2 separate regions of the Homo sapiens genome follow, and region 2 is linked to region 1. The links come from fine-mapping of genetic effects on gene expression. A gene starts in region 1. The other region holds a variant in brackets. All regions are shown on one strand. Distances are from middle to middle.

Region 1 (4,399 bases):
CAGCCAACTGTAGTGGTATGTTGATGTATTCTTGGGAATCGAGAGTTATTATAATCTTTTAATATTATGGCTAAAAAACCCAAAATATCTATGTGTAAATATATAATGTAAGCATGGATTCGTTCATCTCATCAACCTCCTTATTCCTAAATACTGGACTACCATTTGTTTTATTTTTATAATCACATTGATACCAAGTGATCATCTAAATGACATTATTTAATTTTTAATGATTGTTCATAAATTAATTGCTTAAGAGTTATTTACAGAAAAAAACTAGCATTTGTCCTGAGATTAATATTTTTAATATAATTATTTTTATGTGTGCTTGACTATTGTGATAAAGAGAAAAACAGTTAAAAGAGGACCCCAGCCAAGTTATTATGAGGACTGATTTCTGATATTAGCTTTAGTACCTCCAAACCATGAGATTTGGGGAAAGTCACTTAAGAGCCCTAGACTTCAGTTACCTTGTATTTAAAATAAGGGAGTTCAGCTGGAACTAGTTAATCTGTAAACATAGTTTCCATTTCAAAAATTGTGAAATGATGCCTTTTTAAATGGAAAAAGCATTAAGGAGAAGAAAACTGATTCAGTTACAGGGTCTTTGGGGGAAAATTTCTAGCACCACCCTCTCTCCTAATTACAGTAAAACATGGTGGGATATAAGAACCAAATATTTATTGAGTATTTTCTCTGCGCCTATCACAACTCTATTTTAACTCCTGTAAATGTGACTGTGACTCCGTGAGCTAGATTATAGAATTCCTGTTGACAGTTATAATTGGTAGGCACAGAAAGCGTAAAGATGGAGTTTGGAATGGAATCTGGCCTGTCTGACTCTAAGCCCTGGATCCACTGTAATACATTATAACTGCTAGCTTTGCAAAATGCCTTTTTCCTTTTCTCATCTATTTTCACACTCAAACTAAAATTTAGTAAACTAAATTCTGAGCAGCAGAAAAAATTTTAGTAAAGGTCCTCTCATCCTTGAAGAACTTCTTATATAAGGATACTCCTTCTTGCTCCCTTTCCCACGCAGAACTTTACCAAAGGTCAGTAAGAATGGGCTGTTGTGTTTTCTCTCAAATCCTATACAGAAGTCCTTAATTCCGAGGTAAACATCTGAATGGAACAAATGAGTATGATCTGGGGGTTAAGGCAATTTTCAAGTGTGTGTATGTGTGTGTCTGTTTTAAGGCATAACAAAGTCCAGAGATTAAGGCCGAGTTAAAAAACAAATGAGGACAAACCAATGAGGACAAACCAGTCCGCTGAGGTGCGGCCAGAGCAGCAGCAACTGTGGCTGCTTTCTTGATAAAGGCTGTGAAGACGGCACGTTTTACTCTTATTCGTGTATTTCTTTTGACACTTTACCCCTCTATGAAGCCTCAGAGGTGTTTTAAAATTGTGTTAGGAAACACACAGAGATAAGAAAAGGCAAATGGTCCTGATCTAGTGTCTCAGGGAAGAGGCTGGAAAGGAAACGCGGCGCGAGTGGGGTGGGAGAGGGGGCCTGTGGTTTTGCTTCTGTCCGGGCTGAAGACTGAGTAAGGTAGGGCCCCTCCTTCTGCGGATGGGTTTCTCTCTCATTCCACCCTCCACCCACCTCCGGTTCCGCGTGCACGCGCGAGATAGTCCAGTGGGCCCACAGATAACGACCATCAGAGATTAAAGAAGGAAAGTCAGCGAGCTTGAACACAGGCGTCCCGTGTGGAAATGTCCAAGGAGACCGCCAGAAGTGCGCAAGCCGGAGTCGGCTAGAGTTTCCTTCTCACCGAGAGGGGGAGCCCGGCGTTCCCGGCCGGGAGCGACCCGGAGTCCCCAGCCCCGCGTCCCAGCTGCCGCCAGCGCCAGTTTTGGATTCGGCGGATTAGGAAGAGGAGGGAGGGGGGAGAGAGCGCGAAGAGGGAGGGGACCGAAGCTGGAGGGTCCCGAGTCCAGCGCCGTGTTGGCGTAGAGAAACTTTCCCTCTCGGCCTCGGAGACGGCGCCCCGGCCGTGCCGGAGTGGAGATCGCCAGGCTCGGAGGAACCGGCAGCTCTCCACGCCCCTGCCCGAAGCCTGACCCGACTGCCTCTCTCAGTGAGGTACGGAGATTTATCTAGGCTCTTCCCTGGCTGCGAACCCAGGCTCCCTCCAGGTAGCGTGGAATCGCTTAGAAGCTGATATCCCGAGGGGCGGTGGGGGTGGACAGCTCCGGCCACCAGTGCCCGGGAAGGAGGGCGCGGGGCTGCGCGTAGCCGCTGGCCAGCAGGTTGTAAAAAATTAGGACAGCTAAATGCTCAGGGAGTCGTCCAGCACTAAAGGAGGCTAAGACCTGTTGACGCCTGCTATGGCAGCGCTTGAGAAATGACTGGGGGAGTCCAGCGAGGTCGGGGACGCAGCGGTCTCCGGGCTCCAGAAACCTCCTTAGCCTTTTGTGGTAACTTTGGTCCGGCGGCGGGGGGCCGGTGAGCAGGAACTGGAGGGAGGCGGTGGGGAAACCGTGGATCCGTCCGGCTGAGGGTGCGTGGATCAGACTGGGCTGAGCAGGCAAGTCATCGTCGGGTCACAGCGAGGCGACCCAGGAGCGAACTTCCAGGGCAGCCTCCCTTTTGTTGGCGCTGGGAGAGAATGTGGGCATGGGGGTGGGGAGGCGCGAAGCTCCGAGGCCGGGCCGCGGATACTTTAAAGCTCAGAGCTGGGAGGGCCCAAAGGAAGGGGCGGCGTCCACATGGTTACCCTTCTGCTGCGCGGGTCAAGTAGCTTCTTCTGGAGGGCGCAAGGCGCGGCGGGGGTGATGAGCCCTTGGGTTCTCGCTCCGACTGCTAAATTCGCTTGGCCGGGTCCACCTTCTCGTGGCCTCACTCGCCACACGGATCAGAATCCGGAGCAGGCAGTTCTCTCTATTCTGAGGCTCCTGCGGCTGCCGCGCTGACTTCCCTGTGTGCGGGAGGGAACTCTGGGCAGGCTGGTTTTCTTGGAATGTGTTTACGATGTTGAATGGGACTTGAACAGGAAGCTGGACGCTGCAGCTGGAACTAGCGTGCCAAGGTAGAGTAAGGAAGACTTAGCTGGTGTTGGGCTTGGCGGGTCCACTTGGTACGCTGGGCAAACTCCAAGTAAGTGAGGGCTGGCAGTCAAGGTACCCCTCCCTAGGTCCTAGTAGTGTTTCCCAACTGAGCTCGCCTTACTCATTTGCAATCAGACATTTTACATGCACTATTTCAATCTGCAAGTTTGACAAAGTGTAATGCAGTCAATTAGGAAGGATTTAATAAATTTATTTTGTGCCTGCTTTTAAAATACGTTACACCAACATTTGAGAATAAAAAGTTACGGAGAATGTTCAAGTCATGACTGATTTCTAGGACTAGCAGGAGACAATACTGATGATTTTGTGTCTGTATTACAAAATGGGTGATTAGGTGCTAAAGTAAGGGAGATTATTAGACAGAGTGAATGTGAGGAAGTGGAAAACTTTCAGAGGAATTGGAAATTCTTCAAATTTGCAAATTGCTCCCTTTCTCTGCCAGTCTTTCCCTTTTCCCCCCATATGAACAAGTAGCCTTGGCTGGAAAACCCACAAATTGGGAGAGTGCAGTCGCTGGTGACTACAGGCTTTGCTGGAAACAGCAGACAGGCTAAGGTACTGCCCCACTGCATAATTAAAGGTCTCCTTGAGCTGTCCAGGAGTGTTTTCCAAGTTTTTACGACTGACAAGGAAAAAAAGAGAGGAACCTGGCCGGCAGCCAAACTAGACTGAGCTCAGTAGCCAGGCATGAAAGAGACTGGGCAAGTTGCAGGGGCTAATTGGAAAGGGGCTGTCGGTTGCACTTGGGGTTTAAACAAGAGGTTTCTTTTGCAATGAGAATTTTTAGGTGGCTAAGATCAGTCTTCTTGGCAAAAAAATAAACTAAGCATAGAGTGCAGTTGGATATGACCGAGGAAATTACAAAAAGGGCTCCAGGAGCAAAGTCTGAACTTTCCTTATCAGTGTTGCAGTGGAATAGCTGGGGGCCTGATGCTGTTTGTGCTGATCATACTTTGCAAATGCCCACACTTTGTTGCTGTTTGTCTCCTTGGACGAGGTTTGCTGCAACTTCAATTCCTTGACTTCGGCCTTACTTTGTTTTCATAGCAGCAAGAATTGAAGACTTAAGGGTTTGAGCAGATGGTTTTCTACCTAAATTGAATAATTCAATTACGTATTCTCAGCTAGCATGGATTTGGGTCATGGAATTAAAGTAGAAACGTATCCGGCATGACTTCTTTGTGCTTATCAAAAGTGATCCTGATAAACAGATCTTGCTCTTTCATGTAAAGAAGTAAAAGGTGAGATGATCTCAGTATTTCACACATTTGCCCTTTACTGCTTCCTAATTCCAAACCAGCTAGGAACTCAAAGCCTTAACTGC
Region 2 (4,399 bases), 37 kb after region 1:
CTATATTTGATACCTTTTGAATTTAAATTCATTGAACACTTGATATAGTTTTATTTATTCTTCTTATGTAGCAGTGTTCTCAATTATTTCAAAGAAGTCGTGTTAATGACCTTCTGGAATACGTTTCCATTATTGGCTTTAGCTTCCAAAGCAGTCCAGTAATGATTAGGGCTGACATCATGTTTCATACTGATGACACTCTTCCTAGAAGCTCTGCAACAGATGGTGGCCTTTGTGTAGACTCAGCACAGTTCTCCTGGACTATGCTCCTGACTCAGCAGAATTCAGCAGACAGTCTGTACAAGGCATCGGTCTGTGGTGGAGAGACTTATCTGGAAAACTAGCAGGGAAAAAGATGCTAACTAAAATGGGTCGAGGGCTCTAGCTGAACTCTATTCTCTGTGTGGCATTTTGTGTCAGACTTAAAAACCATATGGCCAGAAAGCTCTTTCACTGTAGGGCCAGTTAGCAAATAGCCTGGTGTCAGATTCTAGATAAAGCACAAGTTTACATTTTGCATTGAGAACATTTTTATCTGAGGCCTCTGTGTTTTACAAATGCACATGTGAAGGCAAGATGCCTACTGTACAGAACATGCAATTGATGAATGCCCTAGGGAATAAGATAAGGAGATGAGATTCCTGTACCAACATAGGGCTCTTTGTTTCACAAGTTTTCATCATTTTGGACAGGATTATTTGAATCTGGCAATAGATGGACAAGGCTCTGCTCTGCTTGTGCCTGTAAATTGGGAATTATTTCTTTGTGACATATGGGAACATTTCTTTGGGGGAAAAGAGAAGTGTGTTTACTTTTCTAATGCTCCTTACAAGTTTCCTTGGGACTGGTCAGATGACAAAACTGTCAGTGACAGGACTGAGACTGTAGAGGCTATTTACTATGAAGTTAATGGACCACAGGCTTCAGGGCTCCTTATTTTTTCAGGCTGTGTCCAAGACCCTGCATCTTATTCACATGACCATATGTAACATTTGCAATTAAGATGATTTAAACATAATCAGGTTAAACTGTGCACTTCTACTCCTATTTGTCATATTTCTTTTAGTGTAAAAAATGGTGTTAGAGTGGACATGGACAATTTTGAATTCTGGCTAATGGGATGCTGAGTTAGGGATACATTTATTTTGCACTTAGTAGAATATTTTGGTGTGAGCCATATGAAAGTGGCATTTTTTGAGGTTGAAAATGATGGAGCACTGACAATTTCACATGGCCAACCTAATATTTATGGTGGTTCAAAATTAGTTCAGTGTATAATGAAGTTATTTCTGCTGTTCTGGTAAAGAAATATCTCCCAGGAAACTTCCTACTTCTCCCACTGCTTCCAAATGATCCTACATGCCCAGAGTGATGAGTAAAAGTACATACCAAGAGGTCATTTTGTAATATGTATGTGTCTGAGAGCATCTGGTACCAAAAGCATTTGGAGAGAGAGGAAACACCACCATCACCACCACTTTGATCTAGAATTGGAGAGCAATCATAATAACATATCTGATTACCTTTCACAGGAAAAGGAGTGTAATAGGATGAAAATACATTGTAAGATGGCTATGAGGTTATATTTCTAGGGTTAAGATTAGAGCACATTTCAGAAACCTTATAGCAACTTAATCTCTCTATTTCCATTTCTCTCTATCTTCTCTCAACCTTGTTTATTCCCATCTTCCCTTTCAGGAAAATGAAGACAGTCAGGGATCATCAATAAATGAGATTCGTCTCTTAATGAAACTGGGAGTGGATGGGGAAGACCTTTTCTAGGGATATCTTCTAGCGTTTTTCTACTTCTGTTTCTCTTAATGCCATATTATCCTGGTTGCTATTTTGCCTCGCCAACTGAGGTGGCCTAGGAGGTGCTACTAGAATCAGCAAAAATATATTGCTTGCTAATTAATTATCCTTCAACATAAATTCCTCAGTTTTCACAAGTAAAACAGATGTTTGCTCTTCTGCCCTATGGTTTTATCTTTTCCTTTAGTTGCATCAGCTTTGGGGAGTCTGAGAAGCTGTAACAGAATAAGTAATGTTTTTCTGATTACTGCATACAATGAGTTCTAAATGTCACAAATAATTTACAAAATCAAGGAATTGCAGATTCACCTAATGTCTGTTTCTTAAAGAGCTTTTCTTTAATAAACTCTTGCCAGGGGGATGGAGTGTCCTATGAGAGGCCTTACTTGGTTTATTCATGATGAATATGAGTATACACGATGAATACTTAAACATTTAATACTATCTTGCCTTTTGGAATATAACACATAAACATACCTTCTTTTCCACTTTTTAGAAGTCAGAAGCATCTATGATACGGATCAAACATCATGAATCAACTCATAAATCACTTGCAATGCAAAAGGGTCTCGGGACACTCACTGCATTTATTCTCTGTATTTATTCTCACTGTATTTATTCTCTCAGCTTCTTTTTCACAGGTGGTCTCAGGCTGTCTGCTTCCCTCCTTCAATCATCAGTATTTTTCTCAAGGCAGCCCTCTCTATTGGACT[C/CT]TTTTTTTTTTTGAGTTTCTGTTATCTTCTCTTCCTCTTCTTCCTTCAGGCTGGAGGAGGCAATAGCACTATTATTACCATGCCAATGGTTCTATATTTTACGTTCTGGTTTTATTACATCCCTCTTGTACCCTTGTAAACAGTTCTTTATTCAACTGCACTGTTTGTCTGAATTTAATGCAGCACCCAATTCCTGGGATCCTGACTGATAAGGATGCTAGTCTAGGAATAGGTAGTCTAGGAATAGGTTTGACATTATCAGTGACATGTGAAGTAGGTGAAGAAAAAAGCCATGGAGGTGTGTGGGGGAAAGAACCATCTGCATAGAAAAACAGTAGCTTTATTCTTGGAATGTTGGATTGACAATGAAGTGGACTGGGTGGCTGAAATGAAGTGGGAGAGAAGTAGGAAATTAAGTCAGAGAGGTAGTAGAATGAGGTGGGAAGATCACAGAGTGCCTTTATAGGGCATATACTCAGAATGAGATTAGAAATTAGCGGAGGTGATGATAAGCTTATAATGTGTCACTTTTGCTACTATTTGGAGAATAATCTCTATGGGGACAAAGATGGAAGCAGGGAGGCCAGTTAGGAGTCTGTTGAGAAAGGCAATGGTGATTGTAGAAGCAAAGATAGTGAGAAGCGATGGGGTTCGTGATGTATTTTGGCAAGATGGGGACAGGATTTGCTGATGGATATAGGATATTAAGAGAGGAATCTAGAATTATGCCAAGTTTAGCAACTGGGTGGATGGATCTGTCTTTTCTGATAGGAGAATAGTCATTGGAGGAAGAGTTTAGGGAGAAAGATCAGGAATTTGATTTTGTACCTGTTAACTTTGAGATGCGCCAAAGTAGTTGTATTTAGGCAGTTCATGGGAAATGTGTAGGCTAGAGATACAAATTGAGGAGTCGTCATCATATAGGTAGTATTTAAAGTTATGAAACATACTCAAATTACCTAGGCTGTTGATTCTCAAATTATTTAGTTGGATATTTGTAAATATAGTTTTCACTGTAAATATATGGTGGTTAGGTCATTTCAGTCAGCATTTAAAATAATTCTTAAGATTAGGTAAGTATTTTATAAAAATAAACTTATCTATTTTATAATTAGCAAGTATACTACCTAAGTACCTATAAATAGGTATATCCATAAAATACTGACATGTCTATGTAAACTCAGGTAGACATATAAAGTATGTATAACACAAGAACTATGTTTGAAAATATTATTTGTCTTTTTGGTGGGCACTTTTAAATGTCAGAAAGTGAGAGTAATCACTGATTTTCCTGCCAAACAGAATTAAATTACAACTCTGAGAGGAGAACATAAGGAGTGTTATTGCAGCTATCCTTGAAATGTCAGACTGCTTTTAAAATGTGATTATTTTAAGCCCTTTGTTTACACTGTGGCATCTTTATATGTAAAAAAATTTAAACACTTGGGCATTCTGTGATTTATGTCTAACTTTTAGTATTTTGAATAAAAGGCAATTTGCAATAGTAAAGAAATCTTTATTACCAAAAACAGTAGACTAGGAGTCAGAAGTGTGGATTTCTAGAATATTTTGTCACCAACAAGCCATGTAAATTTATAATACTGAACTTCTCTGGGCTTCGTATTCTTTGTTTGAAAATGAAAAGGTTCATCTGGATTACTGGTGTTTCCACAGTTCCATAGATGTCTCTCTCTCAGCTCCCCCGACAATGGGTCAGGTATGCCAAAGATGCCTGGGTCCTTCACTCTGTTTCAACCAGAGCCTTGAGCTTTTACTTGTTCTTTGTTAGTGCTACTAAGAAGATGTTTTGAACCACAAGATCACCAGTTAAATGGTCTTAATCTTGTGTAGGAAAAAAAAGTTTCAATTAGTTA

What was found. PIP is the estimated chance that this variant, and not a neighbour inherited with it, causes the effect. A credible set is the group of variants that fine-mapping cannot tell apart.
Region 2: its variant is the best candidate, but not a certain one, in a credible set for the expression of GULP1 in cartilage (Steinberg 2020, PIP 0.78).

What each region holds. Positions count from the first base shown.
Region 1 is chr2:188,290,078-188,294,476 of GRCh38, forward strand. It overlaps GULP1 (GULP PTB domain containing engulfment adaptor 1), which reads left to right and starts at 1,797. Exons shown (of 12, transcript NM_016315.4): 1 at 1,797-2,089. RefSeq lists an enhancer at 3,649-4,399.
Region 2 is chr2:188,326,619-188,331,017 of GRCh38, forward strand. The region is part of intron 1 of GULP1 (GULP PTB domain containing engulfment adaptor 1); the gene reads left to right. Among named protein-coding and RNA genes, the nearest start is that of MIR561, 31 kb to the left of the region's middle. The variant C/CT (reference allele first, on the strand shown) is at 2,526.